Linked DNA regions of Homo sapiens: region 2 is linked to region 1. The links come from fine-mapping of genetic effects on gene expression. Tissue or cell type: whole blood. Region 1 holds a variant in brackets; the other region holds the start of a gene. All regions are shown on one strand. Distances are from middle to middle.

Region 1 (7,103 bases):
TGAGAAAATATATACACACACATACGTGCCTATACACACCTATCTATAAATACATATACATGTAAATATACATATATACATATATATGTACACATGCACAAATGCTCATATACATACATAGATGGAAACAGTGCAGAAGAGATTACTCAAAGCAAGTGTGCAAAGGAAATAAAAGAATTGCCAAATCTCTGGGCTGCAGGTACAAGATAAGGAACCATCTCAAAAGCATTCTGCAATTAATTTGTTCCGCACTTTACTCCCACTCTTCCTCCTGTTTAGGCTGAATGCCCCTCTCCTGTCCTGGGGACCTACTCTCCTATCCAGGACAGGACTCTCCTGTCCTCCCTGAGACTGCCCTTGAACCCTCCAGGCTGGGGCGGATCCCTTCCTTCTCTGAACTTTCCTCCCGTTGGCATTTAGTAGTACAAATATTTCCAGTATTTTATTTAACCATTTTATTTTTTGCCCTACCTCTTGCTGGGCCCAACATGCAGTATGAAGTTGATTATTGATTAATTGAAGGGCTCCTAGGGCCTGAGGCACGAGGTGTGTAAAGTTGCCCTGAATCGTCCAGGGATACCACCAATCGCAGTTTTGTATCACACGAAGTTTCTTGCTAGGCACATACTAGATTTGTGTAACGATGTCCTATGTGCAGGAATCTATCAACTTTGCAGAAATGATTACTATAGCTGGGTGCAGTGGCTCATGTCTGTAATCCCAGCACTTTGGGAGGCTGAGGAGGGCAGATCACTTGAGGTCAGGAGTTTGAGACCAGCCTGGCCAAGGTGATGAACCCCTGCCTCTACTAAAAATACAAAATTAGCCAGGTGTGGTGGCGTGTGCTTGTAATCCCAGTTCCTCGGGAGACTGAGGCAGGAGAATCGCTTGAACCTGGGAGGCAGAGGTTGCAGTGAGCCGAGATCGTGCCTCTGCACTCCAGCCTGAAAGACAGAGTGAGACTCCGTCTCAAAAAAAAAGAAATGATTACTATAAATATATATTTCTGATTGCTTTGTAAGATGCACACAAGGGTTAAGGAAGCCAGTGAATGTTTTTCCGGGTAGCATATTGGATCAGAGGCTCTGTTTGAGACATCTCCAGGAATGAAAAGCAGATTTGCAAGTCTGTGAGACTTGGTAACTGCAACATTGATGGGCACTACTGCTGCTGGCTGTGAAATGAAGAGGCCCAAGCTTCCTTACTGATGCATGCAGCTTTGGCCATGTGATGTCCAAGTTCAGCTTCATCTTCTATTACAAATGATTTGCACTCACTTCTTTAGCTGGCCTGAGTTGTAAGGGGAGTGCAACTCTTCCCTTTTGTTCATTCACAAATTCCTAATTGGGTCTCCTTTCCTCTACAGGAAGAGAACAGGCCAGTGGGTGGGTTTTCTCTTCGTGGTTCACTCGTGTCTGCTCTGGAAGATAATGGCGTTCCCACTGGTAAGGTACAACTTCAGCCCTGGCCTGAAGATCTCAGGGGCCTCCCTCCTGCACCTCAGTAATGTCCCACTAATGAAATGACAGCTTTGGGAGCCGAGCAGGGCTTTCTCCATGAGACAGAGTGGTGTGAGTTTTGAAGTGAATTTCAGAATTGAACAAAGGGTATGTTCTTGGCGTTTTAAGAATACAACTAAGTAATCCTTATGTTAATAATCTTTCCCCTCAGTTTCTGTGCTGATGGCCCATAAGCTTCCGCCTAAAAATAATAGGTGAGGCTTACACAATGCTTTAGGGTTAACAACATACCTTAATATGTATCATAATACTAATTTCACAATAGCCAGCCATAGTAAGAAGATATTATTCCCATCTTGTGTCTGTGGAAACTGGGGTTCCAATAAGTTAAACAATTTGAGATCAAACTCCAAATTCTATGCTTGCTTTTAACATAAACATACTGGATTCTTTGATGTAAATGAAATGGTAGATCTATGGCATGCTACCATCTTGAGCATAGGGAGCAGGCAAGAGGGCTTCCAGGAATATCCAGACATAACCATTGGAAGGCCTTAGGGCACTGGTGAGGGACAGGGAATGGGAGGAAAAGGGGACCTCATCTGATAGGATTCTCTAACTGTAAACCTTTTATTTAATAAATACATCATTGTATGTTTTTGTCCATGTCTCAGTTGACTTTCTGCTGGTTCAAGATGAAAGCAGACATGGCTATTCAATCACTGATTTTTTTCCCCCTTTTTTCTGCCTAGGGGTTAAAGGGAATGTCCAGGGAAACCTCTTCAAAGTGATTACTAAGGATGACACACACTATTACATTCAGGCCAGCAGCAAGGCTGAGCGAGCCGAGTGGATTGAAGCTATCAAAAAGCTAACATGACAAGGACCTGAGGGAACCAGGATTCCTCCCTCCTACCAGATGACACAGACAAGAGTTCCTGGAGAATGGGAGTGTTAAGACTTTTGACTTCTTTGTAAGTTTTGTACTGCTTTGGAGAGTGAATGCTGCCAAGAGTTCCTCAGATTACAAACAGCAGTGGTGCCATTTCCTTCCCCATCTTCATGTTACAAACCTGGAAAGGCTAGAACAGCCATTAGGCGTCAGCATCTTGACTTTTCCCCAGCATCACAAACAGCCATTTCCTCGGGCACCAAAGTAGGTTCCCTTTGTTGGAACAATTACACTGGCCATGCCATAATGTTGAATAAAACTCTCTTCTTATGAGGTTCTCTCTTAACTTCTTTGGAATTAGTAAAAGCTGACAATTTGTTTCTAGCTATTAGAATCCCATACAAAGTTTATAGTTTTCGAGCAACGTTTCAAGTATCTCTGTCATTAAGACATAGTTCATCTTAAAGTGGGGATGGTGGCCAAACTTTGTACATTGAGAATATTGTTTTGCTTTAGAAAACAAGCCTGCATAAATATTATACATTACAGAAGTCATGGACTCTGTCGGAGAACATAATCACGTATACGAAAAATACATTACATAGCTTTTCTATGAAAAATGGGCATTTAGCAATGCAGAGTAAGAGCGCTCTAAAGGACAGAAAAAGATGTAAATGGGGAAGATTTATATCAAGGCATTAAATTTTGGTTTTAAAATGAATATAAGCTGAGACAAATAGGTACCAAGAAACTTCACCAGTTGGAAGGTTAATCTGTAGTGAAAAGTCTGTATCATACAATACTTTTAAAGAACATTTTTATTACTTTCAAGTTTATACAGTAATCTGGCACAAGCTATTGCCAGCATTCCTGCCAAGTACAAATGCTTGGACCTCCCCTTAATCAACAGATAAAATACATAACTTACATTTAAGGGGAGTGGATACCTCAAAGTGCTTAAGTAAAAATTTGTTCTCTTTAATAGTTTGAACTGTCCCTTGTTAGTCGTGTCTAAAACATTGACCTGAATAATGAGAAATCACAAGCTAATGTTTTACTTATTCCTTATATGGTAAGAGACTACCTTTTAAAGCACCATTTTCCATTTGGCATTTCACCAAGGTCTAATGTCCCTGGAATTAGTTTTTTTGTTTTGCCTTTTGAATATCGATAGGTGTTCATCTGAATTAAACTACGTTTAGTTTGATGGCTTCCTGCCTCCAAATTGGCAACAGTGTACCTCACTTTGTATGGGAGCTATCAGGATCTCCATAGGTTGCAAAGTAGATGACCATTACCTTGGGGTTGGGGCAAATCAGTGAACAAGTCTCGGCAAGGTACTGGCATTTGTATTTTTAAAAAAATCTCTAGCCATTTTGTTCTTGGTGTAAAAGTAGAATGGCTGAAGTAT[G/A]GCAGCTGAGTAATAACTGTTCTTCTTAGCATGATGTAGTGCTTAGCATGTCTCTATGGGTCCAACTTTGAACATTATTAAGAACTGGTTTGTCTTGTTTTGCTATAACTGATATGAAAAATGGTTTGGGTGGGGCATGGTGGCTCACACTCTTACAGAGGCAGAGGCAGGAGGATAGCTTGAGCCCAGGATTTCGAGACCTGCCCAGGCAATATAACACCATTTGCCAAAAAAAAAAAAAAAAAAAGAAAAAAGTGGTTTGAATATTCATATTTCTTCCTGGCCATTACTGATTTTCAATTAATTTATGCATAAATGAGACCCAAACTATCACTAATTTTCAGCTATATGAATTGATAGCCACTTGACATCAGTGAAAGGTACAGTAGGGAGTAGATGAAATTGTATTTTTAATGAAAAGGCTTTGATGGGAGATTCAAGATTTTTGGTTTTTTTTTTTTTTTTTGAGACAGGGTCTTGCCCTGTCACCCAGGCTCGAGTGCACTGGAGTGATCACAGCTCACTGGCCTCAAGTGATCCTCCTGCCTTGGCCCCTTAAGTGCCAGGGTTACAGGCATGAGCTACCATGCCTGGCAGAAATTCAAGATTTGGATAAACTTACTTCTTTGCCAAGCCTGTTCTTCAAGTTATTCAGAACTGGGTGTATACCTTGTCCTCATATGTATCTTGTCCCTGCTGTCTTTTAGGTTAGCAAGGTGTATGAATACTTTTAAGTTTTGTTTGTTCTTTTCCTCGTGGTATCAGTGAAATACTGATCTATTCTCTGGCTAGGGTCAATTTACAAAATTGCCATGGAACTGAGCAAAAGGCCCACGTGGGATAAAAATCACTCACCATCGACGCCACCAGTATTTTTCAAGTTATGGCTTTTGAAGTATAACAAATTTCAGTAAACAAAATCAAAAGAAAAAATTCCTCTGCGTACAACAAAGAAGCACCTGTTATATTTTGAATGCATTCTTCATGTTGCCAGCTTTCTAAACTTGTTTTTTTGATGCCTCAACAGACAGAAGTGAAAATTATATGCCACTCTTAAGTACATCCAGGTTCTCCTCTACATATTCCCAATATGGAATGCTGGCTAGCAATCATGGCACTCTCTCAGAAACCAGCCACTGGAAGTTAAAACTTCTGGATTTCAAAAGCTAGTACAGGCTGCTAAATTTAACAAAGGAACAAACCTTCATAAATGGTACAAACTACCTGCCCAACACACTCTTCTATTTTCCAGACCCTTTAATATTGAGTAGTCTAGTCTTGGATTGACTATGGTGGGTTAGGTCTAATCTAAGTATCTTAATAGCTATCTAGGGATAATGAATAAAATTAAATACAACTGGTACCTCAAGTATCATAAGAGAATAAATTTATGAAGACAAGCAGACCAAAGCAACTCAAGATTTTCTACACCTGACTACTGTAGCTGTAACTTCAAATAATGTGTTACCTATGAAACTTATTATGTACGAATTAGTTCTTAAAGACAGAAATGATGGAAACATGTAAAAAAAAAAAAACAACAGTAAGTGTTCAAACAGATCCCTGTTTTGTTATAAAGAACTGGAGCTCTAGGTGGCATCTAGTGGATATTTTAATAGCAATAAAAATAAAAAATTGGGTGATATTCCAACTAAATAAAAAATGCAGCTGCTTTTTAAAATTTAAAAACATACTTTACCACCCTGAATTATAAACTCAAGGCAAGTAGCTTATTATTCCAATAAGGACGTGGTGTGATAAATTCTCTCACACAGGTTGTCATCAATCTCAAATAGATAAAAGGCACAGAACCGATCTAATTCTTTCAATGCATTTTAAGGCTTTGTCCCGCTAAGGGTCAACTTTCACTGTGGTTAAAGTTAAATTTATTTTCTCTAAAACTCTTCTTTTGAAAGGATCTGTTATAGAGATCCTTTATTCACCTGCTCCTACAGTTCCACATCAAGACTAAAATAAAGATAAAAGAATTAGGGTCTTAGTATTAAAATGCTTTTAACTGGTGACAAGAAGGAAGAAGCCTATAGTTAAATATCCCAGAAATTTATTTGATGTTTGCTTGAATACATTTTATATAGAAAGATTGGGATTGTTTGCCTTGGATGCCCCTGGCAAATCTCGTGAGGCATTGAACTAGAAAGGGGTGCCAATCTGGAGACATCAGAAATGGAAATCACAAGCCCAATTTTAGAACTATTCTTAAAGATTTGTCTCTAGTGAAATGAGGCCACTCCCTTAAAAATGCTCAAAGTGTTGGAGCTACTGTGTGACAACAGCTGACATTTAGGAGGGCATTTCATGTTCTGATCTGTTAGAACATTTAAATACTTAGAAATAAAAAATATTCAGCTTTGAAGTTTTCAATACTGGAAAACTTTCAAGTCTAGGATTTACAGCCAGGAAGCGCTGCTCTGTGTTCCTTAAATTGGACTCTGTTTCCCACAAAGTTAATCTTCAGCTTTGGCTTCCATTTCTTCTGCATCATCATCTCCATCCACTTCGGCATTTTCTCTTTCAAGCCTCTCCATCTGCCTCGCAAGTTCAGTCTCATCTGTATCTGTGACCACTTTGGGCTGTGGAAGCAGAGGTATAATTTCAAACTGAAGTAGTAAATACTATACAAATTTAATTTCAATACTATTACTGCCTAATGTTTTCTCTCTTTAACACTTTTCTAACAACTCTGTCATATCTGTTCACTTTTGAGTGACTTATCAGCAATAAATTCCATTACATAAATAAGAGGTGAAACTTATGAGAATAGTATAGAAAAAGGATGTATGTATTAAAATGGAAAATTATTTTCTGTCATTTTTATAAGCTAAAACTGAAAACATGAAATAACCCCAATGGCTGTATCTTTCAAGACCACAAATAGATATCCTGTTAAAAAAACCTGTCTTCCAGGCTCAAACTACTACTTACTAGCTTACTAGTCCTTTCCATAGAAGGAACCATAACACACACACACACACACACGCACGCACGCACGTACACACACTTCTTTCTTGTTGGACAAGGAAAAGACAGGAGACAACTTTTTTTTTCTCCAATTCTGAGATCAAATTTTAGACATGCCACATGCAAATTCAAACCATAAAAAAACTTCTCATTTATATTGTTTATTCCCTTCCCCCTGGCTGGGGACGGGGGGTGACCCTAACACCATTAGTGATCAAAGGCCTGAATGACCATCCTACAATATGACATTCCAAGGCCGACAGCTCTTATTTACCTACAAGAACTCCTTTTAGGAACCTCCTGAGTCATTATTAAAAATGAATCTATTGATCTCACCTCCATTTGAACATTGAACACACCC
Region 2 (7,103 bases), 26 kb after region 1:
CTACTTTCAGCACTACTCCTTTTATGATCCACAAGCCTGAAATCATAGCCTGGGTAGAAGCATATTTAAAAAAGGAAGCTCTCAAACTAATCATGGCTGATGATTTTCATGTTTTTCTGTTAACCTTCACTGTTGTCACTGCTCAAAACGTAGGTAGTAACAGAACTTAAAGGCCTAAGAAAACCTTGTGAAAATTCATATAATAACTTATTAATTGGCACCTGCCTATATCTTCTCAGTGGCTTCCCACTGACTTATGTATCTTTCCACTACCTACAGAATCCTATATGATCTGGCCATTGCCTATCTCCTTGTGGTACAACTTTCTCCCTAGTTCTCCCCATTTTATAGATTAAAAAACTGAAGCACAGGTTAAGTTACTTGTTCTTTCACATACTGCTAACAGGTGATGAGTCAGGATTTGAATCCATGAAGTCTGGATCCAGAGTCTGTCCTCTTATCAGTAAGACTATATTCTCTCAAAACTATTCATAAATATATTATAATTAGAAACATTTTACTTAAAAAGCAACATTAATATATATTCAGTGCCAGAGTACATAACACCAATAAGTGCAAACTATTAGTACTCATCTGTTTGACAACAAAGAGCAGCATATTAATGACAGTAGCAGAGATGTATTTCTTTGTAGGGAATACAAAATCCCTACAAAATAGGGATTTAGCAAATAAAGAGAAGTAGACATTCAATGGCCTTACCCACCAAGAAACAGCTGACTGTTTGTTTCGTTTTTAAACAGGGCTTTTCGAGGGTGGGGGTGGGGAAACTGTTGTTGAATATGTGTATGTAAAGCTCTCAAATTTGAGAGCTAAAAAGTTTCAAATTGGGCATAAAAATAAACTATGTTACAGAAATGTATGGAACAGTTGCAAGACATTTGACCAGTGAAAACCACATTTACTTACCAAGCTTCTCCAAACAGTAAAGGTGATGCTTTTAGGGGAAGCAAGGCTTAATTTGATGGTTAAAAAACATGGGCAATCATGTAAGAGAATCCTGAAGGGATATGACTATGAATACTATTTCTTCAGGAGGCACAAGTCTCTTTGCAACATAAAGGGTAAGTAAAGGAATACTGTTGATGGTATGTTATTCATAGTAAAGATAGATAGTAGTTAAGTACAAAAAGAATCCATACCACAAAAACCTGCATATTGGTTGACAATTTTTGAACATATTGCCTAATGAAATGCTAATAACTTAAATTTTTTTTTTAACTTAAAAAAATCATTCCGCAATATCGAAGTCACACTAGGTGACTTCACCTCTTTATCTTTTTCACAGCATTCTTATTTTATTTGGTCCTCAAGAAGTGTCAAATCAGGCAATTAACATAGTAAACTCGGGGAACAACTCTAGCCTTGTGTTCCAGTCCTTGCTCTGCTACTTACTAGAAGTGGCTGCTTGGGAAAGATAACATCCTTTGAACTGTAGTTTCTCATCTGTGCCATGTACATCACAGGTTTACTGAGGGTATCACATGTATACGTAAAAACATTTTGAAAACCATTATGTGCTAGTCAAACATAAAATATTGAAAGAAAAAGAAGGTATTTCCATTTTGTAATATAATAATTTGTTAATTTTTTTTTCAGTAGCTACTATGTACTAAGCACTAATGATACAACAAGAAAGACTCTTACCAGGCCAGGCGCAGTGGCTCACACCTGTAATCCCAGCACTTTGGGAGGCCGAGGCGGGTGGATCACTTGAAACCAGGAGTTCGAGGCCAGCCTGGTCAACATGGTGAAACCCCATTTCTACTAAAAATACCAAAATTAGCTGGGTGTGGTGGCAGGCACCTGTAATCCCACTACTATAGTGGCTGAGGCAGGAGAATCCCTTGAACCCAGGGGCAGAGGCTACAGTGAGCTGAGATCGTGCCACTACACTCCAGCCTGGGCAACAGAGACTCTGTCTCAAAAAAAAAAAGAAAAAAGAAAAAAGAAAAAAAAAAAAGACTCTTACCTAAGTAATTAAGTATAGAGTGGGAAACAAACTAGCAAGCAAATAATTACAATACAAAGTACTATGAAAGGGCACAGTGAAGCAATGAACAGGAAAGGTGGAACAGAAATACTAAATTATAATACTTCCTTAAGAACAAATGCTTAATAAGTACTAGCGTAGGAGCTAAACTCAAGTAATCCGACATCAAATCCAGAATGTCTTTAACCCACAGAACCTCAATATCACAACATGCTATAATACTCTTATGTGTTCTGATGTAAAAAGTATCAGCCACCTTTCAAAATATATCAACCAAACTCCAGGCTAATTTCAAATACCCTGCATAGTCAGTTATTTTGCATGACAAATGGTAGGTAGGACTTCTTTCTCAAAACAGTGCATGGTCAAACTGCTATAATGGATATAGAAGTTCACATTCCTTTCCAAAATATATTATGTGATGGGGACAACTCTCGTGATAATTCTAATTTGGATCTAACACGTATTAGGAATGCTCTCTGAATGCTAGTTCTTGGTATAGGAGTGCTACATAAGTAAAGCTTTTATTTCATCATTATAGTTGAAAAAGAAAGTTATCACCGAATCTCTACAAACATTACTGTGCATGAGACAACTACATCTTTTGGCACCAGATGAACTAAGAATAGGTAGCAAAGTTCTGTACAAGTCACCCCCAAACTATTGACAGAGATTGTTCCTTGAATAACAACTCAATTGAGGGGAAATAAAGACTTCTCTGCTATACTTTTTCTCGAAGAAACCATGTTTTTTGCTTAATAAAAATTTAAAAAGCCTAAGTTTTGAGGATAAAGAGACCTCAGCATGACTGTGTATTTAACCCGAAAATATATCCTTATCTTAGGTTTTAGTTATGCTTAACTAACATAGTTAACCTAACATATGCTTAACACAGTTCTATTCTCATTGTCGCCAAAATACGACAAACTGATAGTAACAGTAATAAACTCAAGTCTCATTTAGTTTTGGTTCAAGGGGTGACTCATTCAATTATCAGATGAAAAACTACTCGGACCCCGCTCTTTCCAACACGGTGCCCGTCCCACAGGTTTCTCAGGTAAGAGGCCAGTTTGGTTTCCACTGAGACGCAGGGGAAATTTTTGGTAGAGCTGTTGGGGCGGAAGAAAAGATGGAATTCTCAAGCCTGGAAAAAGCAAAGTGCTCAGCGTCCTGAGCCGGGGTTAAGAGTTACGGTGTCACAGCGTTCTCCTGAGACCGCCCCATCGTCATGGCATTCTCACTTTCGGCATATTGTAGAGGCTGTACAATCCACTCGGCCCACTTTCCTTCACGAGATTCCTCTGCTCGAACAACGATGCCTCTGGAACACAGGATGACCTACACGGAGCCGGCGAGGAGGCCCACGACAGCGCGGGTGGTGGCGGTGCTGTCCAGCCACTTCCCGCGCAGGGACGGGAAAGGGAGGTATTAGCCCGGGGCCTACCCGCTCTCGAACACCCATGTCACTGGACACAAACCAAAGTGAGTTCCTGGAGAAACCGAGCTTGGGATTAGTCACCTGAGGTATGTGTGTGATTCCCGCACTGGAGCCCAGAGCCGACTTCTTCAATCACAGAGACCAGACTTGCTTCCCCCTCACCGGCCGCCGATCCTCCTCAGCGTGCGCTTCGCTCACTCCACCGCGCATGCGGAACCTCCTCGCATGCGCAAGCGCTGAACGAATAGAGGCCCCTCTTCATCATTAACCATAGAGTCTGGGTCCTCCGAGAACAAGGACGAATGTAGATCATGGAAGGACCTGAAAAGTACTGTTTCTCGCTATCTTAGCTTTAGCTAAGTAACCTTCAAGGCGCGAGAAAGACATAGGACTCCGATTCCTTGCCTCTGAAGAATGAATCCTCTTTCAAAGTTTCAGCTAACCATGAGATGGCGCTGTGACCAAAGACGAAAGGTGGAGAAAGACAAGGCGTGCACGCTTCGCTCCTAGTCTTTGGCCTGGCGCGTGCCGCGTATTGCGCAGCCGCAGGGAAGCTGGATGGGGAGGGGTTGGGAGGCGAACCGGAATTGAGGGGTGGTTCCGCGGTGCGCGCGCCTCGACATCCGGGCAACGCCTCTGTTCTGTCCTCCCCCTTCGTCGCCTGTGACAACCGGAAGCGGAAGTGAAAATGGGTGTCCCTGCTGCCTCTTAGCAACAAGAGGGGTCAAGTGACACAACCAGCTGACTCCCGTAGAGGAAGACACTGTGGAGGCCAGTTCTGGAGCTATTGCAGCCTCGGTTGCCCGGCCGGGGACCCGAGCCGAAAAGTTATCGTCAGAATGTCGGGCAAAGACCGAATTGAAATCTTTCCCTCGCGAATGTAAGTAAAGGAATGGGATAAGCCGCTTTCACAGGTTTAGGAACCCGGAGCGCGGTCCCTTCAGACCCTGGGCCACAGTGAGGGTCCTTGTTTCCTGGGAGGATCCTGAGCTTTTCCCAGGTTCTTTTCTTGAGTCTAGGGCGAGGCTTCCTGACGGCCTCTTCGCGCATTCCTCCTGAGTGAATCAGGCTGGACGAAGCGATCCCAGCCGGTAGGAAAAGGCGCCCGGCCGGCGGGCTTTTGTGGAGGTCTGCTGTCTTTATTCATTAATGGATTCATCCATTCCACATACCCTTATTGAGCCGGGCACTGGATTTATATAACTGAACCGTCGCCACCTCTGCCCTACAGAGCTCACAGTTTACGTAGCCAGACATTCGTCTGGAAAGGCCAAGGAGGTTTTAATAAATGCTCTGAGAAGGGAAGTTTACTGAGGATATAGAAGAGGTCCCTAAGCCAAAGTGGGGATGGAATCGAATCGCCCTAGCATAGCCCTCGGATTCGATCTTGGATCCCCTTACTCATTTTCCAAGATCCCGCCAAATGTCACCTGCTGTGAGAGGATATCCCTGTGTTTCTGAGGCACTGCTTTTGCTCTCTCACCGCTGCACCTTGTTCAGACCTGTGTTAATACCGGTCATCACGCTGTAAAGTAGATATTTGTTTATGTGTCTTTCTCTCCCACTAGACTGTGGGCTCTCTCCAGGATGAAAGAGTGTCTTAATCCATAGAAGGTCCACAAAAAAATATTTCTTGAAAGAACTCATGCTTGGGAATACGCTCAGTTGTGGGCTGCCTTTCTTTTGGGGCCTGAATTCTTTGTCAGGAAAATGGCATATCACTGTAGGTGTTTGGCTAGTTTGTAAGGAAAATTTTGACGTTTTCTCAAATGTGCCTAACAACTTGCTCCCTTTCTCCTCCTCATCCTGTTTATTTTTATTTAGTTTGTTGTTTGTTTGTTTTAATAAGAGACAGGGTCTCCCAGGCTGGGGTGCAGTGGTATGATCAGAGCTCACAGCAGCCTCAAACCCCTGGGCTCAAGTGATCCTCCGGCCTCAGCCTCCCTGGCGGCTGAGATTATAGATGGGAGCCACCGCGCCTGGCTTTCCCTTTTTCTTTTCAGTGAGGAAGCAGAAAATCAGTTTTGACCCTGACATTTAGACCCTTTTATTGTGGTCCTATCTCTGTGGGGGTGTTTTGTTGTTTTTCCTCATTCTGTCCTTTGAGAGAATCTGAGGATGCTTAAAATAAAAGTTATATTCAAACCTGAAGCCCAGATTTCTTTCTGCCCGGTGACTAAATAGCTCTTAATGAAATGAAGTTTTTAAATTTTTTACCTTCACCTGTTGACTTTCTAATAGCTGTTTGCACTAAGTAGGCAGCAAGCTAGTTGTGGGGAAATAAAGATGAGGACTATCCCGAGGTAGTGACAACTGCAGAACTCCTAGGACGTGATGACTCAGTCAAAACTTCTGCACTGAAAGACATCGACACTAGTTTATCTTCTAGCAATGTAAGGCCTGCCCCTAGGGTGACCCCAGGCCGCCCCCCGCCGCCCCCGCCATTAAAATGCCTGCCTGAAAAAGCTCAAAGCTAGGGGGAGAATTTACTGTTTGTTCTAGTCAACACCTAATTGATAGACCCCTCTCGTTCCCTTTTTAGAGCATTTACGAAACAGGCTTACAATTGTTAATATGTATCTCTTCCAACTCTGAAGTGTCCCTTCAAGTATCTTTGAGAGCCATTTCTTTGAAACGTAATCATCAGGAGGGATAGGGGCTTTGTCTCCCAGTCTGTGTGAGAGGATAGAATAGTAACTTACTAATTGCCAGGTAGTATGGCGTTTACACTGACCAACACTTTAAGGTTTCTCTTCTCTGACTCTTCTTGCGGCTGGCTCCCTGCCACTCCCTTACTCTCTTTTTTAAAATGGCCAGTCACCTCTGCACAAATGAGAATTGAGCTCAGCCCTTTCCCCTACTATCAGTGGTTTACTGAATAAAATCTGTTTTCACTACTTTAACGAATGTCTGGCTGGGTTTATCTTTGACAGCAGTCAGAATAACTTTTTTGTTTTTACTTTGAAACTTTTACTTTGAGACTAAGAGGCAAAAATAGACATCTTTGGGCTTAGGTAAGAAAATGATAGGCTCATGAAGGTGAAACTACTATTTGAAAGCTCTCAGCTTGCTGATTGAGAGGAAAATCAGGTGCAGGAAATAATCTCTTCTCTAAATATTTTCCCCATGGCTGGCAGCAGGCTTTTTGTCATGTAGTCAGATGTCTTTGATTCAGCTGGAAGAAAAGTCATCATCCTAGCTAAAGGTCAAACTTTTTGAGTAGGACTGAGCAGCTCTGAAACATGTAAAGGAGCAAGTTTTAAAAGCCATAGGCTAGAAAATATACTGGCAGCTTGTTTCACAGACATTTCCATTCAACAGTATTATTCTGTGATGTTACTTTCACCCACTTTCGTACCAGAGAAAGCAAAAACAATTGTAGAGTGGAAGTAAAAGACGCATGAAAAATTTGGAGTCAACAGAAGTCCACTAAATCCAGGTTCTGCTACATATTAGCTGTAAGTGTGCACGCTGCTCTTAGAGTTTCAGGAATTAAAATTGCCCATTTCACAAAGATGCCATTCCCTAGGAGGAAAATAAAATTAACATGGTAAATTCAATTTTATCAACCAGTTTACCTTTTACTATAAACTGGCTGGAATATGCAGTACTACAATTTGACTTAAATTTGATCCAGCTCTTTGAGCCCAAGTT

The links. PIP is the estimated chance that this variant, and not a neighbour inherited with it, causes the effect.
Region 2: EIF2S1 starts here. The variant in region 1 is fine-mapped to the expression of EIF2S1 in whole blood (TOPMed, PIP above 0.99). The same link has a PIP of 0.9 or more in blood mononuclear cells.

Annotation. Positions count from the first base shown.
Region 1 is chr14:67,382,566-67,389,668 of GRCh38, reverse strand. EIF2S1 (eukaryotic translation initiation factor 2 subunit alpha) reads right to left here. Exons shown (of 8, transcript NM_004094.5): 7 at 7,079-7,103; 8 at 3,153-6,354. The coding sequence ends at 6,229. It overlaps PLEK2 (pleckstrin 2), which reads left to right. Exons shown (of 9, transcript NM_016445.3): 8 at 1,367-1,445; 9 at 2,213-2,685. The coding sequence ends at 2,340. It also overlaps a transcript of GPHN not described here. Among named protein-coding and RNA genes, the nearest start is that of EIF2S1, 26 kb to the right of the region's middle. RefSeq lists a silencer at 83-377. The variant G/A (reference allele first, on the strand shown) is at 3,764.
Region 2 is chr14:67,356,884-67,363,986 of GRCh38, reverse strand. It overlaps EIF2S1 (eukaryotic translation initiation factor 2 subunit alpha), which reads right to left and starts at 3,659. Exons shown (of 8, transcript NM_004094.5): 1 at 3,531-3,659. It overlaps ATP6V1D (ATPase H+ transporting V1 subunit D), which reads left to right and starts at 4,183. Exons shown (of 9, transcript NM_015994.4): 1 at 4,183-4,329. The coding sequence starts at 4,289. It also overlaps a transcript of GPHN not described here. RefSeq lists enhancers at 3,404-4,203, 4,224-4,443, 4,286-5,072.